Linked DNA regions of Homo sapiens: region 2 is linked to region 1. A link means that fine-mapping ties the variant in region 1 to the expression of a gene that starts in the linked region. Tissue or cell type: blood mononuclear cells. Region 1 holds a variant in brackets; the other region holds the start of a gene. All regions are shown on one strand. Distances are between the middles of the regions.

Region 1 (5,196 bases):
TTTTTTGTATTTTTAGTAGAGATGGGGTTTCACCGTGTTAGCCAGGATGGTCTTGATCTCCTGACCTCGTGATCCGCCCATCTCAGCCTCCCAAAGTGCTGGGATTACAGGCGTGAGCCACCGCGCCTGGCCAAGTTTTGCTTCTTAAACTGTGCAGTGCCTTAGCACCTATGCTGAGGTTTGATCTAAGCTCTCCTTGGCTGGGGAACTGTGCCTTTTGGTTCACTGAGGAAAAATCAAACAAGGAAACGCCCTGTGTCACATCCCAGCAGCAGGTGTGCTCTGCCCACAGCAAACCTACTGGACACCACTACAAAGCGAGATGGCCTTTGCTGTGCAGGGCGTGCATTTTCCAGTGTGCAGACGTGAAAGAAGGCAAATCAGTACTTTAGGGAAATAGCCCCCCTCTCGCAGCACCATCCCCATGAGTGAGTCTCACCAGAGGGATAGGGGAGGAGAGCAGCCCCTGCAAGGCTCGTCCCATCGTGCCCGGAGCTCCCAGTTTATCTCAGTACAGACCCTGGATCCAGGCCTCACCAGCCAAAGTCAATTTACCACAGGCCAGGATGGGACAGAGAGTTTGTTTATTTTGTTTGAGATAGGGTCTTGCTCTGTCGCCCAGGCTGGAGTGTGCTGGCATGATCACAGCTCACTGCAGCCTCCACCACCCAGGCTCAGGTGACCCTTCTTCCTCAGCCTCCTGAGTAGTTGTGACTACAGGCATGTGCCACCACGCCCGGCTAATTTTTTTTATTATTTGTAGAAATGGGGTGTCACTATGTTGCCCAGACTGATCTTGAACTCCTGGGCTCAAGCAACCCTCCCGCCCCAGCCTCCCAAGTAGCTGGGACCACAGGCATGCACCACTGTACCTGGCTAGTTGTTTTCTTTTTTTCTTTTTAGTAGAGACAGGGATCTTGCTATGTTGCCCAGGCTAGTCTCAAACTCCTGGGCACAAGTGATTGTCCTGCCTCCACCTTCAAGAGTGCTGGGATTATAGGCATGAGCCACTGTACCTAGTTGAGAAAGCCTTTTAAAAGTAAAAACAGATTGCATTAAGTGATTGCCTGTCTGTCTGCTACCAAGCATTGAGCTGTGCCAGGCATGGGGGCTTTGGAGGTGAGCAGGGCCCAGGCCACACAGAGCCCTTCAGCCATGGCAGGACTTTCCAGAATGCATTTAGGAGGGAGGGAGAGGCACACCAGGGCAGAGAGACGACCAAGGGAAATGAAGGAATGAGAGAGAAAATTGTTTTAACAGAATGGTTTACGGTTATTTTTAGTACTCTTTTTTGCCAAAAACTTAATGCAAAACTCAGTTTTGTGTGAGTTTCAAAGAAGATAACATTGATCGCTTTTTGAGCTCCTCTGATTGAAGGGAGCCTGTCCTTTCCATGCGGCCTTTGCTTCTTGGATTCCCTCCTTGGTCTTGTTCCCTTGGAGCCTCAGAGTCCATATCTGTACAAGATGGATTTTAGAAATCCCCCGCAGCTGGGGTCGCTGTGAGGGTGAAGTGGGGGTGCGGATGCGCGGCTCAACACCGTCTCTGGCACGCAGAATGTGCCTGGTGAATGGCAGCTCTCACAGTGACTCTACGATGTGACTGTGTGGTATTTGATGTTAGAAACAGGCAGGTAGATGATACTGCCATTTAAGACCTCTTCAGGCCATGGCTGCTGCAGGCACGGGGACATGCTGGCTGCTTGCCATTGGCAGCCAGAAGGTATGGAAGCCGCTGTCACTGCCAGTGAGTAGCTTACAGGAAGTGCTGAGTTGGAGACTTGGGCCCGTGTGTGAGTGACTTACGTAGGGTGGAATGCACCAGACAATGGTGCAGACATCTTGACGGGTGTTGGTAGTGATGGCAGAGCTTATTCAAGATTTGGTAGAAACTGGAAAGTCCAAGAGGACTTCCTGAAGGAGGTGGCACTTGAATTGTTCTTTAAAGAATGTGGCTGGTGGCCGCGCGCTGAGTGCTGACTGTGCCCCACAGTGTGCTGGGCACATTAACTGTCAGTGCTCATGGGTCCTCATAGGTGTCTCAGGAGTCCGGTCCTGCCATTAACCTCCTGTAGTGGTGGAACCCGAGCCATAAAGGGGTGAATTTGCAGGAGTGAAACTCCGGAGCCCACGTGGCCGGTCCCTTTCTCTGTGAAGAAAAGGTTCTTGATGCAGGAACTGGCACATGCTAGGTGGGAAACTTGGCTTTCGGTCACTGCTGGTTTCACAGGCTCCTGGGCTGTTAGGATTTCACTACAGTTTAGCTCCAGCGTGCTAGCCTTTTGTTCAAGAACCGCATCTTTGTTCAACTCACATTTGCACTGCAGGTTGCTGTTGTCAAAATGAAGAATACTGAACGAATTTATGCAATGAAAATCCTCAACAAGTGGGAGATGCTGAAAAGAGCAGAGGTAAGTATGGAGCTTGAAAAGCCATACAAATGGGGCTTGGGGTGAGCAGAAAGTGACTGTGAAGCCAGCTGGGGAAAAGCTGCAGCCACCCCACAGCCCTGGGCCTCCCTGCCCCCCGGACAGAGCGAGCACTCTCTTTTGAGGAGGTCTCAGTCTCCTCCCTGGCGCCTGCTGCTCCCCGCCTCAGCGACCACTTGCTTGCTGGACACTGTTCCTGAGAGTGCACCCTCGAGAATGTTGGCGGGTCCTGTTTACTGTAAAGGCAAATAAAAAGCATCGGGAGAGTTTCAGCATTGATTGCAGTTCTGCTCCATACACAAAAGGAATTAACACGTTTGGACCCTGCTCACATACAGAATAGGTCTTTAGATTCCCACCTAGAGGATCCTCACGATTAGAAATGAA[G/AG]TGGACCACTGCCCAGCAGGCTTTGATCAGCTCCTTTTTCTTAGTTCCGTGTCAGTCTTCTTGGTGGCCATTCCATGCCTCTGACCCCACCTCTACAGCCGCGTGCTCTGCCATTGGTCTCCCTCCTGCCTGCCTAAGGCAGGCCAGGCCTGCTGGGGAGCCCACGCTTTTCCTCTCTGGCCATCTTGAGTTTCTGTCCTCACCCGCCCTGTTGTCTTCCCCTCCCCTGCACTCAGAGCCCAGGCCCTTCCTGGCCAGTTGACCTGCTTCCTGCTTCAGATCTGCTCCGTCCATCATGCTCCATCCTCTCCCGTGACTCCCGCCTCTGCCAGAAGGCACTTGGCAGTCCCCTCCTTGCAGGCTGCCATTCATCACAATGGTTTGCTGTGGCCCCGTGTGTCTCTGACCCGCCCTGAGCGAGGCCTGTGCCTGGCAGCGCTGCGGTGGCTCTAGGCTGCTCAGCCCTGCGGTCAGCGCTTGCTTCTGGAGTTGAACCTCTCGACGTGGCCACCTCCTCATTTTGGGAAGTCCTTCTTGGGTTTCTAGACCCTCTCCTCTTACTCCTCTCACCCTTCTAGTAATTTGAGGTGACGCTTTCCTCTTTGGTCCTGGAATTTGTGCCTGTGCTGCCCATGATGGTTGCCACCTTGGGCCGACAACAGTACAACCATCGATTCGGGCCAGATCTCTCTGGGGCCCTGGGTTTTATTAACTTGGTGGGTGTTATCGGTTCCTCGTGACTCAGTCATTCTGGCTTTTCCCTCCCCCGCTCTGCACCCATTTCCCCTTTCCCTGCTATGGCACCCAGCACAAGGTCTCACAACCATTTGTTGCTCACTGAACGCGTGTTGGTTGACAGAGTTAGCACCATTTTGTAGTTACCCTGGTCTCAAAATGTCGGTGGCCTGTGATTGCTTCGGCCCCCTGGGTCTCCCAGCTTCTGGGGTGTACACGGTCTCCCTTCCTTCTTTGGGAGAAGCCTTTGCTCTCTTTTCCTCCATCTTCACTCAGTCATCTCACTGTGTGCTTCCGCTGGGCCTGCCCTCAGCCCCAGCAGCCCTTTCCCCGCCCCAAACAGTGGCAAACACAGGAATGTTATTGGAGCAAATTTTTAGGGGAAAAAGTAGCTACTGTTACATGAAAGTGTAGAGAGGTATCAGGTGTTTGGTATTTACCTAAATGTCATGGTGGATGAGTACATTTAAAAAGAGTAAATATTGCTGATTTAATTTGAATCTGGTGACACAGATCCAGTTTAATTGGCATGCTCAGAAAAGCTCAAGAATGTTTGCCAGTCGCGGTGATTATACTAGAGTATATGTGTGTAAGAGATATAAAAATAAATATGGTGCTAGTTGCAAATAATTTATCTTTTTATTTTTATATCATAGACTTATTTTAAGCATTAAATTTTATAATACTGATTTATAAAAAATTTTCTTAAAAGCATGAATTAAGAGGTTGGTCAGTAGAAGAGTTGCTAAGCAGTGTAGTTTATAATTTTTCTACCAGGCAAGGTCTTTATTTCATCTTACTTGGTTAAAAAATACTAAAAGTTTCTCTCTCTGCTCCTTAAACAAAACTGCTGGATAATACATAAGTTTCCTGTCAGCAGGTCACCTTGCAGGCAGTCCCCAGTTTAAGAATGGGTTTTTCCTAAATGCTCTGGGCAGCTAGCTGCCAGGCAGAGCTTCAGGGAGCGTCTCCTGGAGGCGTTGGCACAGGTGCCGCAGATCCTCGGGGCAGCCCCGGCCTCCTGAGCCCACGGTCTCACCTCACCTGGGACTCAGCACTCCATCACCATTTCTTTTTGGGGGCGCGTTCTGGAAGACAGGAGGTCAGGCACACTGAGGCTCAGGTTTTCTTTAGTTGTCCCTTCACCAGGCCCTTGTGGCTGAGGTGGCTGTTGGCAGAGGGGTTGTGATGATTCCAGAATTGCTGGTCTCTGCATGTCTGGACATTAGCAAGCTGAATGTTGACCGCTTGTCATGTTGTCATTAGTAGAACTGGGACACAGCTGCAACAGCCATCTTTTTTTTTTTTTTTTTTTTGAGACGTCTCTCCCTGTCGCCCAGGCTGGAGTGCAATGGCACGATCTTGGCTCACTGCGACCTCGGTCTCCTGCGTTCAAACGATTCTCTGCCTCAGCCTCCCGAGTAGCTGGGATTACAGGCACCCGCCACCACGCCTAGCTAATTTTTGTACTTTTAGTAGAGACGGGGTTTCACCATGTTGGCCAAGCTGGTCTTGAACTCCTGACCTCGCGATCCGTCTGCCTCAGCCTCCCAAAGTGCTGGGATTACACGCGTGAGCCACCGTGTGCAGCCAACCATTTCATTTTGAAAGAAAAACTTTTTTTTTCTTGTTTTAGAGACAGGGTC
Region 2 (5,128 bases), 49 kb before region 1:
CAGATGTGAGCTGGGTGGATGAGCAAGCACAAGACCCATGGATCCATTTAGGTCCTGTCCAAAAGTCCCTCAGGAAGGGCAGAGGGCCCCTCCCCTCCACAGCCACCAGGTAAGCATCCACCCAGTGGCACATCTGCTTGAGTTAAGGGGACTTCAGGAGACAAAGCAGCAGGGAACCACCGAGGAGCCCATGAATGTTCCCAGGAGAGACAGGGTCAGCTTTACCCTCTGCCAATCCAGATGGGATTGGAGCCCTTCCCCACTTCTCCCTTTCTCCCTTCCCGGTGGTGGTTCTAGATGGGTGGAAGTGGGCTGAGCGAGCCGAGGGAGGTTTGGGGAAGGAGATGGCACCAGGCACAGCCCCCTTTCCCCTTGCTCATCTCAGGCCCTAAGGGGTCCAAGGGGGAAGATTTAACTTTGATTTTGAGCCAGGTGATCTGCTCAGACTTTTTAAAAAAAACTTTTAAGGTGTCATACACAAATAGTAACATGCAAATATTTAGAATACAGTTTGATGAATTTATACACATTTACAGACCCAACGTTACAAAACGGCTGTGCTGAAGATACAGAATGTTCCCAGCCCCCTAGAGGCCTCTCCTTGTGCCTCCTTCCAGTTGATACCCCAAAGGCAACCAGTACTCTCACCTCTAACGCCAGATTGTTCTCACCTGCCTTTAAGAAATGAAGGTATTATATATACATACACACAGTGACATGCACTCATCTTAAGAAGACAGTTTGAAGAATGTTTACTTATGCGTGCTCCCATGTAACTACTACCCAAATCCAGGCATAGAACATTACCAGCAGCCCAGAAGGTTCCTCCTCTTGTTCCAGTCAACAACTCCGGCATAGGCAGCCACTCCTCTTCTTCTTCTTCTTCTTCTTATTATTATTACTATTATTAAGACGGAGTCGTGCTCTGTTGCCCATGCTGGAGTGCAGTGGAGCGATCTTGGCTCACTGCACTTTCGCCTCCCGGGTTCAAGTAATTCTCCTGCCTTAGCCTCTCGAGTAGCTGGGACTACAGGCGCGCGCCACCACGCCCGGCTAGTTTTTTGTATTTTAGTAGAGACGGGGTTTCACCGTGTTGCCCAGGCTGGTCTCGAAGTCCTGAGCTCAGGCAATCCGCCCACCTCGGCCTCCTAAAGTGCTGGGATTACAGGTGTGAGCCACCGCGCCAGGCCCACTCCTATTTTTAGCTCCAGAGATTAGTTTTGCTTCAGGCTCCCTTAACGTCCTGCTTCAAACCCCTATCTGCCCCTTCATCGGCTCCACCTGGAGGCCACCGCTTCCACGGAAGCATGACCCCTTCCCCTGCACCCGCGCGCCCCAGAAGCTCTCAGATACCCCCACGATTTCGGTGACCTTCCGCAAGCTCCAGGAAAAGCCCCTCCTCTCCTGACGCCAAGGGTTTGTTGGGGTTGGGGGGTATCTCCATCAGCCTCCCTCCCCCAGCCACCCAAATTAACCAACAATCTTAGTAAATGCAGCGACTCGCTAGGCAAACCCAGCCTGGAGACAAATATCCGGCCCCTTTCCTACCAAACTGTCACACCTAGGCATTGGTCTGCAGGGAGGGCTGGACAGTGGAAACTGAAACCCTCTGCAAGCCATCACGAATCCACCGGGCACTGGGGACGCTGGCTCCCGCCTTGGCAGCATCCCCCAGAAGCCTGGGCCCTGACCCCACACCGTCTGGGCCTCAGTCTCTCATCGGTAAAGTCAGGGGTAGGGCCCGAGTCTTCCAGGACCGCTTCGAGCTGGGACAAGCCGTTTTAAATAGCCCACAACCCGCCGAGGCCATCAGAGCTGCGCCTGCCGGGCCGCCCTCGACCCCCACCTCGGCCGGGCAGGTCCGAGGCCCCGCAGGCAACATGGGCCCGCGGACTGCGGGACGGGGCTCGACGGCCTGAGATCGCGACTCTGCCTCTCCGATACTTGGGGTCGTCTTCGGCCCCGGGATCCGCGACGCGCGCGGTCGGACCCCGAATACTGAAGGCACCGGGTCCGCAGGGCGAAGGCGCACACGCCCACCAGGCGCGCTCTGCGCATGCGCGGGCTCCGCAATCTCAGCGGCCCACTCGCCCCGCCCCGCCCCCCCCACCCCCACCCCGCGCCGCTCCCCAGGCCCGGCCCTGCCTTCCCAGCATCCCGGCTCCCTACGGCAAGCGGCGAGGCCCGAGCCCGCCGGGAGCAGGGAGCCGGGCGCGGGGCGGGGCGGCGCGCTGAGGTCAGCGCGGCGGCGGCCGGCCCCGTAGTGGTTGGCTGCGCTGGTGCTGGCCGCGCCCTGGTTGGCTGCGGGCCGCGGGGCTGGGCCGCCGGGTCGGGGCTGGGGTCGGGCTCGGGCGCCGGCCGGGCTTGCGCAGCGCTAGGCTCCTCGCCGCTCCTAGTCTGCGGCGGCGGCGGCGGGGAGGGCGCGGCCGCGGGCGGGGCTGAGGGCGGCGGGGGCGGGCCGCCCGAGCTGGGAGGGCGGCGGCGCCGAGGGGAGGAGAGCGGCCCATGGACCCGCGGGGCCCGGCGCCCCAGACTCTGCGCCGTCGGGACGGAGCCCAAGATGTCGGCCTAGGCCGGGGCGCGACGACGCGGACGGGGCGGCGAGGAGGCGCCGCTGCTGCCGGGGCTCGCAGCCGCCGAGCCCCCGAGGGCGCGCCCTGACGGACTGGCCGAGCCGGCGGTGAGAGGCCGGCGCGTCGGGAGCGGGCCGCGCGGCACCATGTCGGCCAAGGTGCGGCTCAAGAAGCTGGAGCAGCTGCTCCTGGACGGGCCCTGGCGCAACGAGAGCGCCCTGAGCGTGGAAACGCTGCTCGACGTGCTCGTCTGCCTGTACACCGAGTGCAGCCACTCGGCCCTGCGCCGCGACAAGTACGTGGCCGAGTTCCTCGAGTGGGGTAAGTGCGCGCCGGCAGGGCCGGACCTGCGGCTCTGCGACCCCCGCGCCCCAGCCCGCGCATCCCCACGCCCGCCCATCCCCGCCCGGACAGACCCTGCCGCCCTCCTGCCCACCCAGCTCGTGGGCTTCGCCTCCTCTCGCTCTGGCAGCGCCCCCAGGCCCGCAGCCCATCTCTCTCCAGCCGCTCCTTGCACCCTCGTCCCTCCGCTAGCTTTTCATCCCTCCTTGCCCTCCCTAGGCTCGACATCCGCGTTCGATCGTCCCGCCCCCTCATCCTGCCCCTTGGAGCCACATCCTACGTTCCCACTCCCACCCCCTCCCCCCCGCCGGGCCCTCGCCCTGGCGGCTTCCTAGATCCACCCTCCGAGTCTGGATATCATTTCCTGCAGCACTCACTGGGATATCCGCCCCCGCCCCCGCCCCCGCCCCCGCACCTCGCCTTTGGGGTCCGGAGGCAGTGTGGAATTAGTTCCCTTTCCCCACCCCACGCTTCTCTGCGTTGTGGGGGCAGCTGGGTGTGCTTTCTGCATCTGCCTCGCCCACTGCCCCGTGGGACCCCCTTGCATCCCCAGGGAGCCCAGCTCTAACGGCCCCTCCTGGGTGACAGCCTGTCTACATCCCCTTGTTGGTCAGAGCCTGAATACCTACTTTGCTGTAACACCTTCAAGGGAATTTTAAGGTTAAGGCTTTATTTTAAATAAACCGTGCAAGAGGACTTTTTTTTTTTAATTCCAATTCTGCTAGACCTTTGTGATATTTGGAGGGGTAGCTGGAGCTATCACTTAGAAACTTTCTCATCTGAATTTTGCATGCCTTCTCTAGTTCGTTCCGGATCTATAATGTTTTAATCATTGGTCAGCTAACCTATTATGCTTTTTTAGGACAAAAATTTGATTAAACCATTTAACGATAATTAGGATCCTAAAGACAGGTAAAAGTGCAGCGTGAAACTCTTTTACTTCATCTCTCCCTAACGGGTGTGCCGGTCAAGACCCTCAGACTGTCTCACCTAAAACCACTGAGTAGGAGGAGGAAATGCGTATGTTCAGGCCAAACCTATGAAAACCTTATCCTTGGGTCATTTGCGTCACTGGGCTAGGACTGTTCAGTTCGAACCAGTAATTTCTAATCTTTGGGGCTGATAAAGCTGATATTTATACGAAGAAACAAATGAAAGTGTTCCACAGTGAGGCCTCCAGGCCTCCTACTCTACTCTGCCAGATTGGTGACTGGAATTTGGAATTTTGTTTACAAATAAAACTTAAGTTGCAATATTCTTTAGAGGGCTTCTGTTGGATTACTCTGTAGTGAAATGTTACACGGTATCTTGTGAGAGCAGCAGTAGAAAGAGGTCCTGAGATCAAGGACAGCCTGTGATGCTTTATTTCCGTGGGAACCACCATTCTTGGTTACTTATAGTATCAGTAAATTAAGAGTATTTGCTTTCTAGCGTCCTTTGTCAGTGACACGATTTCCAACTGAATAATTAATTGACTTCACCGTTGCTTTGAAAGTGAGGTCTTTGGTGCATGTTAAAATCTGAATATTTTGTTTACCTTTTCTTTCTTTTCTTTGGAGACGAGTCTCACTGTGTTGCCTAGGCTGGAGTGCAGTGGCATGATCTTGGCTCACTACAACCTCCATCTCCTGGGTTCAAGTAATTCTCCTGCCTCAGCCTCCCGAGTAGCTGGGACTACAGGCACGCACCAGCATGCCCGGCTCATTTTTGTATTTTTAGTGGAGAAGGGGTTTCACAGTGTTGGCCAGGCTGGTCTTGTACTCCTGACCTCGGGTGATCCACCTGCCTCGGCCTCCCAAAGTGCTGGGATTACAGGCGTGAGCCACTGCACCCAGCTTGTTTACCGTTCCTTTCTGATCACTCGATCTTGAAACCCACACAGTTCCACTGTCAGGTTCAACTTGGTGCACCACCTGTGAGTGTGACTGGGAAGAGGAAGCAGAGGGAAAGTTGGTTTTGCTGGGAAGATGTGGTCCCACTGGCCTCTGGCCTGGGACCTAGAAGATTAGTCTGAGGGCGGGGGCCCTGGGGGCCATTGTGCAGCCACCTCTCTCCACCAGGCATTACTGGTGGGCTTCCCTGGAGGAAGCTCTTGTCAGCATGTGTGGAGGTCATATTTTATGAGATCTGGCCTTTCCAAATCTAAACGGGAACTGTGCTGTAACATAGACATATTTTCAAAGTTGTATTCTGGCTCTTTGGAAATTGTGATT

The links. PIP is the estimated chance that this variant, and not a neighbour inherited with it, causes the effect.
Region 2: CDC42BPB starts here. The variant in region 1 is fine-mapped to the expression of CDC42BPB in blood mononuclear cells (TOPMed, PIP 0.94). The same link has a PIP of 0.9 or more in monocytes.

What each region holds. Positions count from the first base shown.
Region 1 is chr14:103,005,686-103,010,881 of GRCh38, reverse strand. CDC42BPB (CDC42 binding protein kinase beta) reads left to right here. Exons shown (of 37, transcript NM_006035.4): 3 at 2,327-2,410. Among named protein-coding and RNA genes, the nearest start is that of CDC42BPB, 49 kb to the left of the region's middle. RefSeq lists an enhancer at 1,616-1,910 and a silencer at 1,616-1,910. The variant G/AG (reference allele first, on the strand shown) is at 2,816.
Region 2 is chr14:103,054,765-103,059,892 of GRCh38, reverse strand. CDC42BPB (CDC42 binding protein kinase beta) reads left to right here and starts at 2,344. Exons shown (of 37, transcript NM_006035.4): 1 at 2,344-2,894. The coding sequence starts at 2,720. RefSeq lists an enhancer at 1,207-1,857 and silencers at 1,853-1,962, 2,003-2,502, 2,593-2,672.